2 separate regions of the Homo sapiens genome follow, and region 2 is linked to region 1. Evidence: fine-mapped expression QTL. Tissue or cell type: whole blood. Region 1 holds a variant in brackets; the other region holds the start of a gene. All regions are shown on one strand. Distances are from middle to middle.

Region 1 (8,262 bases):
AGTAGGAAGGGGATTTATTGGCTCATAGAGCTAAGTCTGAGGTCAATAGGATTAAGGTGTGGCTGGATCAGATGTCATCAGTACTCTGCCTTCCTTTCTATTCCTTCTTATTCTTTTTTTTTTTTTTTTTTTTTTTTTTTTTTTTGAGAGAGAGTCTTGCTCTGTCACCCAGGCTGGAGTGCAATGGCTTGATCTTGGCTCACTGCAACTTCTGCCCCCTGGGCTCAAGTGATTCTCTTGCCTCACCTCTTGAGTAGCTGGGATTACAGGTGCCCGCCACCATGCCCGGCTAATTTTTGTATTTTTAGTAGAGACGGGGTTTCACCATGTTGGCCAGCCTGCTCTCGAACTCCTCAGGTGATCCGCCCTCAGGTGATCCGTCCGCCTTGGCCTCCCAAAGTGCTGGGATTACAGGTATGAGCCATCATGCCCGGCCGGAAAGGGTTTCTTAATGAGAGCTGATGGGATGGGATTTGAACTGGCAGGAAATAAAGTGGCAGATACTCCTTTGGGCGGCTGCATCAGCAAGAATGGAATCAGGGAGTTGAGACGAGGTGGGACAGGTAGGAGGAAGCCAACTCTCACTTCCTCCTTCTCTCCCCATTTATCTTCTTTTTTACCCTGAGCAGATACCTGTCATCCTTTTTTTCATTTAATATTATATCATAAGCATTTTCCATGTTGCTAATGTATTTTCTCAATAAACTTTTTATTTTGGAATAATTTTAGACGCACAGAGAATTAATGAAGACAACAGAGAGTTCTTGTATTCCCCTCCCCCAGTTTGCTTCTCCTGATGTTCTCATCTCACATGACTGGTCAATTGTCATAACTAAGAAACCACTCTTGTATGTTACTATTTTTATTTTTGAGACAGGGTCTCACTCTGTCACCCAGGCTGGAGTGCACAGGCACAATTTCAGCTCACTACAACCTCCACCTCCTAGGCTCAAGCGATCCTCCCACTTCAGCCTCCTGAGTTGCCAGGACTACAGGCAAAAATTAAATGGGTGTGGTAGCATGTGCCTGTAGTTTCAGCTACTTGTGAGGCTGAGAAGAAGAATCGCTTGAACCCAGGAGGTGGAGGTTACAGTGAGCCGAGATCGCGCTACTGCACTCCAGCCTGGCGACACAGTGAGTCTCTGTCTCAAAAAAAAAAAAAAAAAAAAATGCTGGAAACAATAAGTGGAGGGAAAGTAACAGGTACGGGAACCACCATGAACAAAACATTAGAGGCAGAAACAAGCTCTCTTTTTATGTTGGCCCCTGGGACAGTTTACTCTTCTCCCCACAAAGAGTAGCTGACCAACACTTGGAGGAAACTATGTCAAAGAGTTTAAAGCCTGGAGTGGAAAGATTAGGGGTGTGCTGGGGGAGAGACGGGGTGCTGAGAAGGAGGGAAGAGGCATGGCTGGAGAGAGAGAGAGAGAGATGTGGGAGAGCAAAGTGACTTGTCACCACTGCTTTTTGGCTGGCGTGGCAGTGGGGATAATTATTAAAATAATCACTACTAATTGTAAAAATTCATGGACAATAGAAGGGAACATCCTCAGCTCCTTTTCACCACTTTTTTGTTTGCTTTTTGTTTTTTAACTGCTCCTAACAATCTGGTGTATTTCTTCACATGCTTTCTTCCTGTGCATACAAACCATAAGAATACAAACTTACAGGATACCAGGCAACACCAACCTCCTAAGCCTCGAACCTCTCTCTGCCACTGGCTGCTTCGTCCCTGTGCTGGTTCTCCTCCTAACCTCCAGGTGGGCTCTCTATTCTTTCCCCTTCCTTCTCTCTTTTTTTTTTTTTCTGATTGAGACAAAGTCTCACTCTGTCACCAGACTGGAGTGCAGTGGTGTGATCTCGGCTCACTGCAACCTCTGCCTCCCAGGTTCAAGCGATTCTTGTGCTTCAGCCTCCGAGTAGCTGGGACTACAGGCGTGCACCACCACACCTGGCTAATTTTTGTATTTTTTTTTTTTTTTGAGACAGAGTCTTGCTCCTTTGCCCAGGCTGGAGTGCAGTGGTGCGATCTTGGCTCACTGCAACCTCTGCCTCCCGGGTTCAAGCAATTCTCCTGCCTCAGCCTCCTGAGTAGGTGGGATTACAGGCACCCGCCACCACGCCCAGCTAATTTTTTTGTATTTTCAGTGGAGATGGGGTTTCACCATGTTGGTCAGGCTGGTCTCAAACCCCTAACCTCATGATCCACCTGCCTTGGCCTCCCAAAGTGCTGGGATTATAGGCGTGAGCCACCGTGCCCAGCCAATTTTTGTATTTTTAGTAGAGATGGAGTTTCACCATGTTGGCCAGGCTGGTCTCGAACTCCTGACCTCAGGTGATCCATCCGCCTCGGCCTCCCAAAGTGCTGGGATTACAGGCATGAGCCACGGCGCCTGGCCCCCTTCCTCCTCCTGAAAAGGCGGATCTCAAGGCTCAGTCCTGCTCTTCCCTCCACATCCTTTGCTCTTGCAGGTCTCCTCTTCCACGCAGGTGGCTCCCTCATCTCCTCTTCAATATCTGACTTCTCTCAAAAGTTCCAAGTCTGGATTTGCCATTACTTGCTGGACATCTCTTCCTTTATCTCATACCCACCACTGCTCATAAAGATTTGTCGACGACCAAAGTCAGTCATTTGTCTCAGTTTCCTTCTTTAAGCTTTCCATTTTTTATCACTGGCATTTGTGTATACCCAAAGTCATGGGCTCAAAACATTGGCCTTATCCTTGACTTTTCTCATTAACATCCAGCTCTAACTGGTTCTTCTCCTGTAATATCTTTCTCCTCCATCCCATAGTTTCAGTCTATTTTACCACCTAGATCATGATAGACTTCCTACCATGAATCTGTCCCCACTCCAACCCATCTCCTTACAGCTGCCACATGAACCTTTATAAAATGCTATTTACGTGTTAATCCTCTTCCTCCTGAACACAGAATTCCTCACCTTCTTGCTTACCTGCCACTGTCCCAATTTCTAATCCTGGTAATTATACCTCCCACCGTCTACCACCAAACTGTCTTCCTAGACTCACCTCCTGCTCTTCCCACGCCCGTGTTCCACTCCAGCCCAAATCATTTAGTTATTGGTCTCTTAAAACACTGCATTTGCTGACTCCTGGGTCTTTCCTTGAGCCACTAACTCAATCTGAAATTTTGATCTCCTTTTTTTTGAACTTGTTGAAGAACTTTTTTCCCAGCTCAAATCCCAGTCAAGCCCTGTCTCTTTCAAGAAGCATTCTTTTAGCTGGGCGTGGTGGCTCATATTTGTAATCCCAGCACTCTGGGAGTCTGAGGTGGGAGGATTGCTTGAGCCCTGGAGTTGAGACTAGCCTGGACAACATAGTGGGACCCCATCTTCACACACACACACACACACACACACACACAAAGCATTTTTTGACCACCTCCACAGTCCATGGAACTGACCCTTCCAAAACCTGAGGCCAATGCTTATTGATAGACTGGGTTGGTATTTACATATTATATATTATCTCTTTGGCCTCCCTGAGTTTCCCCTGTGCAGAGACTCTACCTATCTCTATTTACCTTCTATTTCTCTATTTATCTTCAGTGCCTGGCACAGGATCTGGACATCATAGATGTTCAATAACTTTTTGAAAAAATTATTTATATATTGAGAGACAGGGTCTCTCTCTGTCACCTAGGCTGGAATGCAGTGGCATGATCATAGTTCACCACAGCCTTGAATTCCTTGGGTCAAGGGATCCTCCAGCCCCAGTCTCCCAGGTAGCTAGGACTACAGGTGCAGGCCACCACACCTGGCTACCATTTTTTTTTTTTAACTTTTCATAGAGATGGGGGTCTGGCTATGTTGCCCAAGCTGGTCTTGAACTTCTGGCCCCAAGCATTCCTCCTGCTTTGTCCTCCCAAAGTGCTAGGATTACAGGCATGTGCCACCATGCCTAGTCTCAATAGCTTTTATGTAGAATGATTATGCTTATGCATAGGTTGAAGGTTTGAAGGCAAGAAGATAAAGTTTGGGGAATAAACAGGGGACATGTTATAGGAATGGATGAAGGATAAAACTGTGGTGGGGACACAGGGTTAAAGGAGAGGCAAAATTGGGTTTGGGGATTAAGATCGCAGAAGAGGGATACGAGTATGAGATTGTGTGAGACTGTCCTACATGTCATTGGCAGTGCTCATGTTAGAGGGACCATCTGGATGTGCTCATGAAGTTGTTGGGTGAGAACCAGATGGGCCTCAGGGTAGGGAAAATTAGGTGGAGTTTGGCCTCCTCAGATCTACAAAGGCAGACAACCCAGTGAATTACTTACTTAATTTGACTCTTGTAGAGGCTCAAAGAAGCCCGTCCTGGAAGGTCTAGCTGCTTGTTTCACAAAGGCCAAAGACAGGGAAGTATTTTGTTTACTGGATTCATTCAGAAAAGTATTTATTGAGCATATACTATGCACCAGGCATTGAGAACATAGAGATTTTGTTTTCCCTCAAGGAGTTCCTAGTCTAGTGGGGGGAAACAAAGACATAAAAAGTAAATGCAACAGTGTGTTACAATGGAGAAAGAATCCCGTGTGGGGTATTATGGGGGCACAAAGCAGGGAGGGATAGGTTCACCTCGAGGAGATAGAAAAGGCTTCTCAGGGAGGCAACTTGAGCTGAGTCTTTAAATCTGTGTAGATATCTACCGGGTTGATGGGAATGAAGGACAGTTGGGGAGAGGGTAGGCATTCTGGGCAAACAGACAGCAAGAGTTGCAGGGAGCTGATGAAATTTCAGGGAAATTCATGAATTTTGGGTCAGGAAGAGATGAGTGATGTGGTTGCACAGAAAACAGGAGACCCATGAGGAGACGTCTTTGGTGTGCTGGGGAGAGATAATAAAGGCCTGCAGCAAGCAGGGGAAGCAGGAATGGAGACGGGCAGGGTGGAAGACATGC[G/A]AAGGAAGTGGAGCGGTCAGGACTCCATTGTTTAATTGGTGATGACAGGAAGAGAAAGAGAAAGAGTAGACTGTGTGAGAGAGAGCAGAAGAGAAGGAAAGATTGGTCATTGTTACTCCCTGGTTCTTGGCTGGGGTAACTAGGTATATGATGTGTGTGTATTTGCTGAGATGTGGGACACATAAGGACTAGAAGAGTTGCTTGGTTTTTGATAACCAAGTCTGAGGTGCTTTTGGGAATCATGGCCCACTTAACTTTCCACTCCTTTTCATCTGTGAAAGCTCTGATGTCTGAGAAAGGTCAAAGGGCTCCTTGGTAGAGAACTATAAGCAAGTACGATCCAACTTAAAAATAACTTACTGAACATTCACTATGTGCCAGACACAGTGTGGTCCACGCTAATCTCCGAGGGGGCAGGGACTCTGACTTGTTCACGTTTGCATTCCAGTGCCTCATACAGAGGCTGACACACAGTGGACATTCAATTAATATTTGTTGAATGGATGACAAGACATGAATGAATATAACGGTTAATGGGCAGTAGGAATATAGTAATGAGAATCTCCTGATGCCTCCTTTTGGGAGCAAGCTGTCTGGTTGGGGCGACAAATGTATAGACAACCAGTGTCCAAAGAGCATATTAAATACTTGAATAGAGGTTGGATGTAAGGGCAATGGGGACTGAAGAGAAAGGAGGAGTGACTGAGCCCTCGTGTTGGATTTTTAAGGATATGTACAAGTTTTCTAGGCAAAGAGGAAAAGAAATCCCAGGAAGAAGGAATAGACCATATCAAGGCTTAGAGGGGTGTAAATGTGTGGCATGGTTCTCAGAATAACAAAATGTTTAATGCATCTGAATTCTACATGGCGATCATAATACCTGCCATCCCCTTATAAGGAAATCTGCCCCATCCACAGTCAGAGGTGTACTTGGATGGGACCACTCCCCAGACAAAAGAGCAGGGTCAGTTTCTCACTATGGGTGTGTGTGTGTGTGTGTGTTGATCTGGAAAATACAGAGAGGATCAGGCAGTTAGCAATAGGAACAAAGACGGAGAGAAGCCAGAGGGGCCAAGATGGCCATGGGGAACAGAAGTTACAAAGAAGTAGAACCTCATGGTAGAGAAAAGACATGCTGAGCAGAGGGAGAAGCCGTGGTTATTTTTTTGGCTGAGAGCAGATGAACTCAGATGGTCAGCCCATTAATCACATCTGTGTATATTAAAAATCTTTTAGTCATGTTAAAATATTTGCTTCTAACCATCAAATATATTTTAAAGAACTCATTAGGAGAGGGATAGTCTGTTATATTTACCCAGATATTTAATGTTTCTGTTGTTCTCGCTTGATTCCCCGTGTTCCAGGTTTCCTTCTCACATCACTTCCCTTCTGTCTGAAGAAATTTCTTAAGCAATTCTTTTAGATTACATATGCTGGAAATTGATTGTCTTAGTTTTTTTTTCTTCTTTTCATCTGAGAATGTCATCATTTCACCTTCATTTCTCAAAGATATTTTTTTCTGGATATAGAATTCTGAGTTGATAGCTCTTTTCTTTCAGCACTTTAAAAATATTATTCTACTTTCTTTTTTTAAAAAAATTTTCTTTCCACAGGTTATTGGGGAACAGGTGGTGTTTGGTTACCTGAGTAAGTTCTTTAGTGGTGATTTATGAGATTTTGGTGCACCCATTACCTGAGCAGTAAACACTGCACCCAATTTGTGTTCTTTAATCCTTCACCCTCTTCCCGCCCTTTCCCCCTGAGTCCCCAAATTCTATTGTGTCATTCTTATGCCTTTGCATCCTCATAGCTTAGCTCCCACTTATGAGTGAGAATATAGGATATTTGGTTTTCCATTCCTGAGTTACTTCACTTAGAATAATAGTCTCCAGTTGCATCCAGGTTGCTGCCATTAACTCGTTGCTTTTTATGGCTGAGTAGTATTCCATCGTATGTATGTGTATATGCATATCACAGTTTCTTTATCCACTTGTTGATTGATGGGCATTTTGGTTGGTTCCACAGTTTCGCAATTGCGAATTGTGCTGCTATAAACATGTGTGTGCAAGTACCTTTTTTGTATAATGACTTCTTTTCCTCTGGGTAGATGCCCAGTAGTGGGATTGCTGGATCGAATGGTAGTTCTACTTTTAGTTCTCTGTGAATCTCCACACTGTTTTCCATAGTGGTTGTACTAGTTTACATTCCCACCAGCAGTGTAGAAGTGTTCCCTGTTCACTACATCCGTGCCAACGTCTATTATGTTTTGATTTTTTTGATGATGGCCATTCTTGCAGGAGTAAGGTGGTATCACATTGTGGTTTTGATTTGTGTTTTCCTGATTAGTGATGTTGAGCATTTTTCATATGTTGGTCATTTTGTATATCTTGAGAATTGTTGTCTATTCATGTCCTTAGCCCACTTTTTGATGGGATTGTTGTTTTCTTGCTAATTCGTTTGAGTTTGTTGTAGATTCTGGATATTAGTGCTTTGTCAGATGAATCTTCTGGCCTCCATTGTTTTTGATGAGAACCCTGCAGTCATTCAAATTATTATTTCTCTATGGGAAATACATTGCTTTTCTCTGCTTGCTTTCAAGATTTTTTTCTTTGGCTTTAGTTTTCACTAGTTTGATTGTGATTATCTGGATGAGGATTTGTTTGTTTTATCCTGTTGGTGATTTGTTGAGATTTTCGAAGCTGTAAGTTATATCTTTTATGAAATTTGAAAAATTGGAAGTCGTTATTTATTTTTTTTGTGCACCACACACTCTTATCTTTCTTTGACTCTGATGACATGAATGTTAGACCTTTTGGTTTTGTCCTTCATGTCCTTGAGACTCTATTTACTTAAACAATTTTTTCTTGATGTCATTCAAATTGCATAGTTTCTATTGAGCTATCTTCAAATTCACTGACTGTTTCCTTTGCTGTCTCCATTCTGCTGCAAGCTCACTCAGTGAGCTAAAACTTTTTTTAAAAATTTATTTTATTATTAATTTATTAATGGGGTACAGGTGGTTTTTGGTGACATGGATGAATTATATAGCGGTGAAGTCTGAGATTTTGGTGCACCCGTCACCTGAATGGTGTACATTGTACCTAATGCATAGATTTTGTTCCCTTGGTCCTCTTCCCACCCTCCTGAATCTCCTTCTGAATCTCTAAAGTCCGTTATATCACTCTGTATGCCTTTGCGTATTCCTAGCTTAGCTCTCACTTATAAGTGAGAACATACAGTGTTTGGTTTTCCATTCCATTATCTCCTAGGGGGTTGGAATGGTAGAGGTTTCTTAAAGCTTATCTCCTTCTCCCATCTCATGCACTTTTTATTTATTTATTTTC
Region 2 (8,000 bases), 77 kb before region 1:
AGTGAGATTCTGTCTCAAAAAAAAAAAAGAAATTGCGAGAAAAGATATTCAAGAGATGGCGAGGGTTCAGAGCCAGAGGCCACTGAGAGATGAGATAGTGATTCTGAAAGTGTAGTCCTGAACTGGTAGTGTCAGCATCACTTTGGAACTTATAAAAACGCAAACTCTTAGTTCCCACCCCAGACATACTGAATCAGAAAGTCTGGTCATGGGATCCAGAAATCTGCATTTCAACAGGCATTCAGGTGATTCTGATGCACACTGAAGTGTGAGGACCATTGGATACAGGATGAGAACTCCAGGAGGCCATTTTGACTCTTGAAAAAGTAATTCTAGTTGGATGAGGCAGGGGAGACGAGGGTACAGGCAAATAGTGACATGAAGACAAGTCTCACTGAGTGAGGATGGGGTTTGGGAGCCAAGAGCTGGGGGTTGGGTCCCTGGGAGCAGAGGTTGAGGTGAACAGAGTGCAACGTTGTGGGAGAGGTCTGGGGCCCTTACCTGGATGACCATGGGCTGCAGCTTCCCATTGGGCTCCATCTTCAGCATAACGAGGGGGGCAGCCAGGTATTGCTTCTCTCCTCGGATCACGTTGGCTGGAATTCCATCCAGAAGGATGAAGTCAGCTTCAAACAGGGAACCATTCTGGGGACAGGAGGGATGTATCCATTTTTAGAGTTCAAAGTCTACCCCCAGGGGGCCGGGGCAAAGGGCAAGAGATTTAGTCTAGCTTCTTGCCATTCTCCTGCATCAGTACCGGAGCCCTGTTGGGAGAACTAGAGCCCCTGGTCCAGTTCCTCTCATCTTAAAGTGAAGAAACAGTCTGGTGAGGGTAGATGTCTTGTGTGTGGATGTGGTGGCAGATCTGGGTTTGGAACCAGGCCTGCTCAATCCAGTTGGCATCACAGGCATTGTAAACTGACCACCTGTCAAATGGCCAGGCCCCTTTCTGATCATTCCCGAATGGTCTGCGCTCTGGTTTTGGCTCCTATCAGCTCAGCAAATGCTCTTTCATTCCCTATTCAAATCTCACATCCTCTGCCAAATATTCCAGAGAGCTTCCCCTACTACCCCTGCCACCGCATACAGCACACACATGCATACGCACACATTTTGCCTAGGCTTGTCCTCAGTACAGTCCATTGCTTCCAAACCCCGCTCTCTTTTTCTAGAAAGCCTCCCCGATTCTCCCCACCTGATGGCACTTCCTCACTTTTCTCCCTGCCCATGAACACTGGAGTCCAGAACACTGCGGCCAGGCAATGTCACTGTTCCTGCTAACATCTCCAGCCCCTCTCTGTGTGCTGGGGATCCATTCTATTTTCCCCTTCCTGCTGGGAGCTCCTCATAGTTTCTTCCCCTACATATTTTATTTCTGTATTTTTCCAGCACAGGACTGCACCAAGGGGCAATGCAGTACTGCAGCCTTCCTCTGACTCAGTTTGGATTCTCTCTGTCCGTTCTCACCACACTACTAAGGAGAGAACAGTGCCAGGCAGGGGAAGGAGAGGTACCTGAAGTTCTTTCTCCAGTTGAGCCTGAAGCTCTTCCATCCCCGAGGGCAGCACTAGCCTGGAGGGCAGAGAGGTCGAGCGTCTCAACAGCATGGGGTTGGCACCATTGAGGAACTGGTAGCTGAACAACTCATCATCCTGCCAGCACTGGCGAACCTTCTCTTTGGTGGGCGGTGAAAGGAGGATATATGTACCACAGCCTGCATATCCCTTCTCCAAAATCTACCCCAGGGGTTCAGGTATATAACCCTCCCTGAACCCAGCTTCTGCGTTTTCATTCTCAAGGCCTCTCTGAGTTGACCAGATATGATAAGGTCTCTTCTTGCAAAGAGTTACGGGGGACTGTGGAGTGTGATGAGTCATCCAGAGGGGCCATTAAGGGATTATGGAGACCTCGGGGAACCACTGACCAGCCAGGGCACTCTTCTGGCCCCAGAAGATCTGATCAAAGTCTTCTAGGCAGTTCCAGGAGCTCAGGAGGGTGTAAACACGTTTGAGGGCCATCTCCAGAGCCCTAGGACAGGTATTGAGGCTTAACTCATCAGCTGATCCCTCAGTCCCTCACCGTCTATCATCATTCTTGGCCCTCCCAGCCCTTATTTCACTCCGAGGTCTAGCCTTTTTCTCACCCTGCCTTCAGTGTCCATTCAAAGTCCAGCCTCTTCTCCTCATGGAATCTCATATTTGGAGGTAGATCATCCTTACGGTCTGCAGCGATGGTCAGGGGTAACCCTTCCTTCCAGGTGGCCCAGCTAGGAGTTGGGGACAAAGCTTCAGGAAGGATGTCATGGTCAGTGATGGGGCCAGGGGCAGGGGCAGGGGCAGGGAAGGGGTGGGACAGTGGTGGCGGGGTTAGTTTAAGGGGTGGGTGGTCACCAGTAGATCTGCTGTCTGTCTTTCAGTTCCTTCTCTCGATGCTTCTGGAACATGTCCAAAGCATTGTCTCCTGGCAGGCGGGCTGGGGAGACATCAAGACAATTGGCCTCACGGCTCTGTCTGGTCCTATGCCCGCCTCTTGTCCTCATCTCCCTGTGGTTAGCCGTATTCCATGTTTTCAGCCATGCACTGTTGCTTTTATCTCTGGCTTTGCCTCATTTGATTATCCACCAGACACGTTTATCCCATCTTTGCCAACTTTGCACTCCTGCTTTCTCTTATTTCAGCCCTCATCCTTTGCCTGTAGATAAAAACCTCCTGTTTGCCACCATTTCTTGCTCCTTCACTCATCTTCCCCTACCTGGCCTTACTTCATCAATATCTATGGTTGGAAAAAAATCACCTTAATTAAGGTGATGAAATCTTAGTCACCTATACACCTACACCTACTGTCTACTACAGATTGCTTTGATTAATTTCACATCTTAAACCTCACCTGCCACGCCTTCACCTGTCCTCAAAAGATTCTACATTTGCTTTTTTTTTTTTAAACCTCATCTTTCTGGATTTACTATCATAATCTGTATCTATGGACTTATTCTGGGTCTTTTCTGCATTTACACTCACCTGTCTCAAAGTCATAGATTTGATGTTCCATCCCTACTGCCCTCACTCATCTCTGGATTCATCTCTCTTTTACTCATTACCCATGGTTAAAAATTCACTATTTGGGCCGGGCGTGGTGGCTCAAGCCTGTAATCCCAGCACTTTGAGAGGCCAAGGAGGGCGGATCACGAGGTCAGGAGATCGAGACCATCCTGGCTAATACGGTGAAACTCCATCTCTACTAAAAAAAATATAAAAAATTAGCCGGGTGTGGTGGGGGGTGCCTGTAGTCCCAGCTACTCGGGAGGCTGAGGCAGGAGAATGGCGTGAACCCAGGAGGTGGAGGTTGCAGTGAGCCAAGATCGCACCACTGCACTCCAGCCTGGGCAACAAAGCAAGACTCCATCTCAAAAAAAAAAAAAAAAAAAATTCACTATTTGCCATCCTCATTCCTCCTCGTCTCCTGCGGGCCAGTGTGCTTCTTGTCTTTCACGGGTGTCTTCCGTGTTATTCCAACCAAACCAGCTCTCCAGCATCCTATGTTTTCTTCCCTTAGCTGTCTGCTCTCACGGGTCACCCACCCCCTCCTGTTCCATGTGGTCCCCTCACCTGACTTCTGAGTCACCTTTACATCTCCTTCCTACTTTCACTTTGCTTCTCTGTTTTCCTGGATCGCTGCAACTCCCACTTTCTGTCTTTGCCTTCTTGGAAGATGGGATCTCCAGATCACTTACTCCCTGCCTCCAGCCTCACACGCAGCCTCTCTTAGCCTGTGTAAAACTTTGGGAATTCATAACTCCTTCCCGTTTTCTGTCCAGCACCCTGGGATCCCTACATTTCACCTGCCCTGGGCCCATACATCCTCTAAGTCTGCTCCGACCGTCCTTAACTCTGCCCTCCTAGCCCCGCAGCAGTTCCCGAGACCTTGTGCCTCCTTCCCCGACGCCGCCTGCTCACCGGTGCCCTCGGGCAGGCTCAGGATGTCCTCGCCCTGCACCCAGCGGTAGCACGGGAAGGCCACCTCCGCGCAGGCTCCAGGGCCCTGCACCGTGATGCGGTCGCAGAACCACGCGTCGTCCACCAGCCAGTGGTGCTTGCGCAGCCTCACGAACTGCAGGAGCCCCAAGTCCTCTGCAACGTCATGATCAAACTCCTCCTCCTGTGCAGGCCGGACCCAGGCCAGACTTAGTAGGAGGGACCCGACTGAGGCCGTTTCGAGGACAGAGCCGCGCTCCTGTGCAACCTCAGTTTCTCAGGGCCTCCAAAGACAGCATCGCCTCGTTCCCGCCCCCGCACAACCTGCTCTTTGGGTCTCAGACGCCCGGAGTCGGGTGGAGGACGAGGGCCCGCAGCGCCTGGAGCTGATGCTGGAGCAGCATCGCCCACGTGGGTCCCATTAACTGAGCTCTCCCCGCGCCGGTTCTTGGAGGAGCTTCACGTCTGACCTCTGGCCTCATACTTACATTGGCTCTGGGTCACTGGGAGAAGGAGCTGGGGGCTGCCGGGACCAGGGGCGGGAAAGGGAGATGGGGTTGAGCCCAGCCCGGGATCCCAGCTGCGGACCCTGTCCCTAATCTTGCCCACCTCGTCCCAGCTTCGTGGAAGTCCCAGTCCGCGAGGTCGCGCTGTCACCTCGCCCCCAGCCTCCCGCCCTCCCGCCGCGAGCCCAGCTCGGCCCGGGCCTGGGCCCGGGGTCCCCGCTGCCCTAGCTCCCCTCGCTCCCCGCGCTGACCTCGCCCCGCGCGGGCCGCAGCTGCAGCTCCAGCTCCGCCTCCCCGCGCGTCCCGACCAGCCAAAGCTGCACGCGGTTGTACGACCCGGAGAAGAGCCAGGCCCCGGTGGCCACGCGGATGCGGTAGCGGCCCATGGCGCCCCCCAGCAGCTTAGGCGAGGGGAGCCGGGTCCTGTGCGATTCCCGGGACCGCCCAGGGCTGCCGGCGCCTCGGGGCCACTTCCAACCTTTAAAGGACCGGTCTGCGGCCCCGCCCTCCTCGCAAGTTTTAGGCGCTCCCAAGTCCCCGCCCCAGACTAGCCCAAACCTGCGAGCAGAGCGGTAGAGCCGGCTGTGGGGACTGGCTGTGCCTCCTGGTCGGAGCGTAGCTGCAGGATGATAAAGGGGCCCGAGCCAGGGTGAGGCCAACGGGGTGGGTGCGGCGGGACCTTCCTGGACCTCCCGGGAAGGCGGGATCGAGGTGGGCCTGAGCCCCCGGGTTGGAGCGAACATAGATGAGAACACTTCCCGAGGTCTCCAGGTCTTCTGGGGAGCCAGGAGGAAGTAGGGGATGAGTCCATCTTCCAAACGGAGGGGAAGGTCTCCGCTTTTCTGGGCTGGGACCCGGGGAAGGCAGTGGGCCGGCTTCTGGAAGGTCGGCCTGGGAGGCCGTGCTGGGGTCTGGGGATGTCCCGCGGCTAGACCCGGCGCGGCCCATGTGTCCTCCAGTACCTGAGCTCTGCCGCCCTTGAACGCTGTGCTTCCGTCAACGACCAGGGGTTCCCCAGGGTACCTAGAACCTGGAAATGTAGCAGCTCAACACCCGCTCCCCACCCCGTTTCAAATATCTGGGCGCTGGGGTCCCAATGTACACCAAATATCATGGGCCAGACCTTTGAGAGAGGCCTGAGGCAGGGCAGTGAAAAACTCATTTTGTCCAACCTCCGAAGCGGGTACAGACAATGTTAGGGACCCAGGAACACCAGTCGGGGTGTTAGGGTGCGGGATGGAATTGCTTAGGGACCTGGCCTACGTGGCCAGTTCCCAAGAACTTTGTCTTTTCCAGGTGAGTGCAGCCCCTTCCGCTCCAGTAGGTTCCAGATTAATTTTTTATCCCCAAGCTCTTTCCTGCTCCTTCATGGGTCTCAGGTCTCCTGGAAATCCAGGAACAGCAATTAGCCCACTGCTATTTAGGGCCTTTGTAAACATTGAAGGATGATTCGGAGCTTAGGCTTTCTCTCCCGTGTCAGGAATCAGTCAGATGAAGCCTGCTGCACGCGTCCCTGTCTAGATCTTGATTCAAGTGATTATATGCATTTGGATCTCCGTGGATGCATCTGGTGGCCTGGGCTAGGCCAGTGTAAGTTAAATCTGCTTTCTTGAGCCAGTCCTCAGAAATGACTTGGTGGCCTAGTTGTTGGTAGAGGTAAGTGAGTGGGAGTTTTAGCCCCGCCTTCCAGCCTCCAGATCAGACTCTATCTCAAAAATAAATAAATAAATAAATAAAAATAAAAAAATAAAGTGTCTGTCCCTTACTGGATTCAATTCCCTTTCTTATCTTCTAGGTCCACTCTGGCCTACATCCTCTGCTCAGGACTGCAGGTCGGCCATTTGCTGGTCCCCAGTTCTTCCAGTTTTCTGGGGTCACCCCATTCTGTAATATCCAAATAAAATGGCTCAAATTCCCATCCTGCCTAATAGTAGGATCTGGCCTTTCCACACACATTTTCGTGGGTTACTTTTGCCTAGAAAAGAGTTTGTCTCATACCTACTTCCAAAAGCACTGTTTCTTTGCTGTTTTGTGACTTATTTTCTGCCCACTCTAGTGTACTCTACGGCCACGTGCAGAGAGAGGGAATGAATAATTGAAAAACCGGATTCAAGCTACTGCGCATGCTAAATGAGTGAATATGGCTAAACAGTGAGAACAGTGCTTGGCGTGTAGTCCCTCTATGTATTAGCTGCTATGATTGTATTATTTACAACTGAATGTTAGCGTTGCTCCTCTACCGTTCCTCTCCGCATGCTATTTCTCCATGTCCCTCTCTAGGCCTAGCCTCTCACTAGAGCTCTTATCACTCTAGACCCTTCCCCCTCCTGCTTTTGTTTCCCTTTTAAGCACATGCGCTATGTTGGGAGAATATAATTAGAAGCAAAATTTTCTCCCAACCCAGAAAAAACCTCTCCACGAAAGTAGTGAAGAAAGAAAACAGTTTTATTATTGAATAAGCATTAAACCAGAATGTGAGCACATCACAGGCAGTTTGCTAAGAGACTGCAAAGACAGAAGGAAGTCTCACTTTTATCTAGCCAAGCAGATACAGCCCATTACATATGTGTTCTCAAGATAAACTATAAATAATCTTTAGGAGGACTCGATAGCACCATTTGTCACATATAGTGCAGTCTAGAGACACCTGGCAATTGTGATGACCATCTATGTTAGCTAACTGGCTTAATCAGAAGAAAAACTTCTCTTTTTTTTTTGAGATAGAGTCTTGCTCTGTTGCCCAGGCTAGAGTGCAGTGGCGTGATCTCGGCTCACTGCAACCTCCACCTCCCAGGTTCAAGCGATTCTCTTGCCTCAGCTTCCTGAGTAGCTGGGATTACAGGTGTGCACCACCAAGCCTGGCTAGTTTTTGTATTTTTAGTAGAGACGAGGTTTTGCCATGTTGGCCAGGCTGGTCTTAAACTCCTGACCTCAGATGATCCACCCACCTCGGCTTCCCAAAGTGCTGGGATTACAGGCGTGAGCCACCATGCCCAGCCAGCTTTTCAGATTTTTATGACAGCAGATAGTTTTGCAGCTCAAGCAAAGTGTCCATTTAAGTTAGTCCTACCCTCCCACAGAAACTGGGAAATGAAGGCTCCATCTTTCTTGGTGTTTACATTTCAAGGAGATGGCTCCTGGGTCTTTGTGAAAGACATCCCTGGGTAGTAAAGCTGGCAAGAGGCTGTGTGGCTTCTAAAAATATTTATACACGTTTTGAAGACACAGAAAATAACTTACAAGTTTTCTGGCTGGGTGCGGTGGCTCACGCCTGTAATCCCCGCACTTTGGGAGGCTGAGGTGGGTGGATCACCTGAGGTCAGGAGTTTGAGACCAGTCTGGCCAACATGGGGAAACCCCATCTCTACTAAAAATACAAAAAATTAGCCAGGCGTGGTAGAGGATGCCTGTAATCCCACCTACTTGGGAGGCTGAGGCAGGAGAATTGCTTGAACCCGGGAGGCGGAGGTTGCGGTGAGCTGAGATTGTGCCACTGTACTCCAGCCTGGGCAACAAGAGTGAG

The links. PIP is the estimated chance that this variant, and not a neighbour inherited with it, causes the effect.
Region 2: ALOX12 starts here. The variant in region 1 is fine-mapped to the expression of ALOX12 in whole blood (TOPMed, PIP above 0.99).

What each region holds. Positions count from the first base shown.
Region 1 is chr17:6,915,886-6,924,147 of GRCh38, reverse strand. No RefSeq gene overlaps it. Among named protein-coding and RNA genes, the nearest start is that of ALOX12, 76 kb to the left of the region's middle. The variant G/A (reference allele first, on the strand shown) is at 4,919.
Region 2 is chr17:6,992,981-7,000,980 of GRCh38, reverse strand. ALOX12 (arachidonate 12-lipoxygenase, 12S type) reads right to left here and starts at 4,932. Exons shown (of 14, transcript NM_000697.3): 1 at 4,729-4,932; 2 at 3,954-4,155; 3 at 2,391-2,472; 4 at 2,144-2,266; 5 at 1,925-2,028; 6 at 1,515-1,675; 7 at 502-645. The coding sequence starts at 4,863. All of the region lies in intron 2 of ALOX12-AS1 (ALOX12 antisense RNA 1), which reads left to right.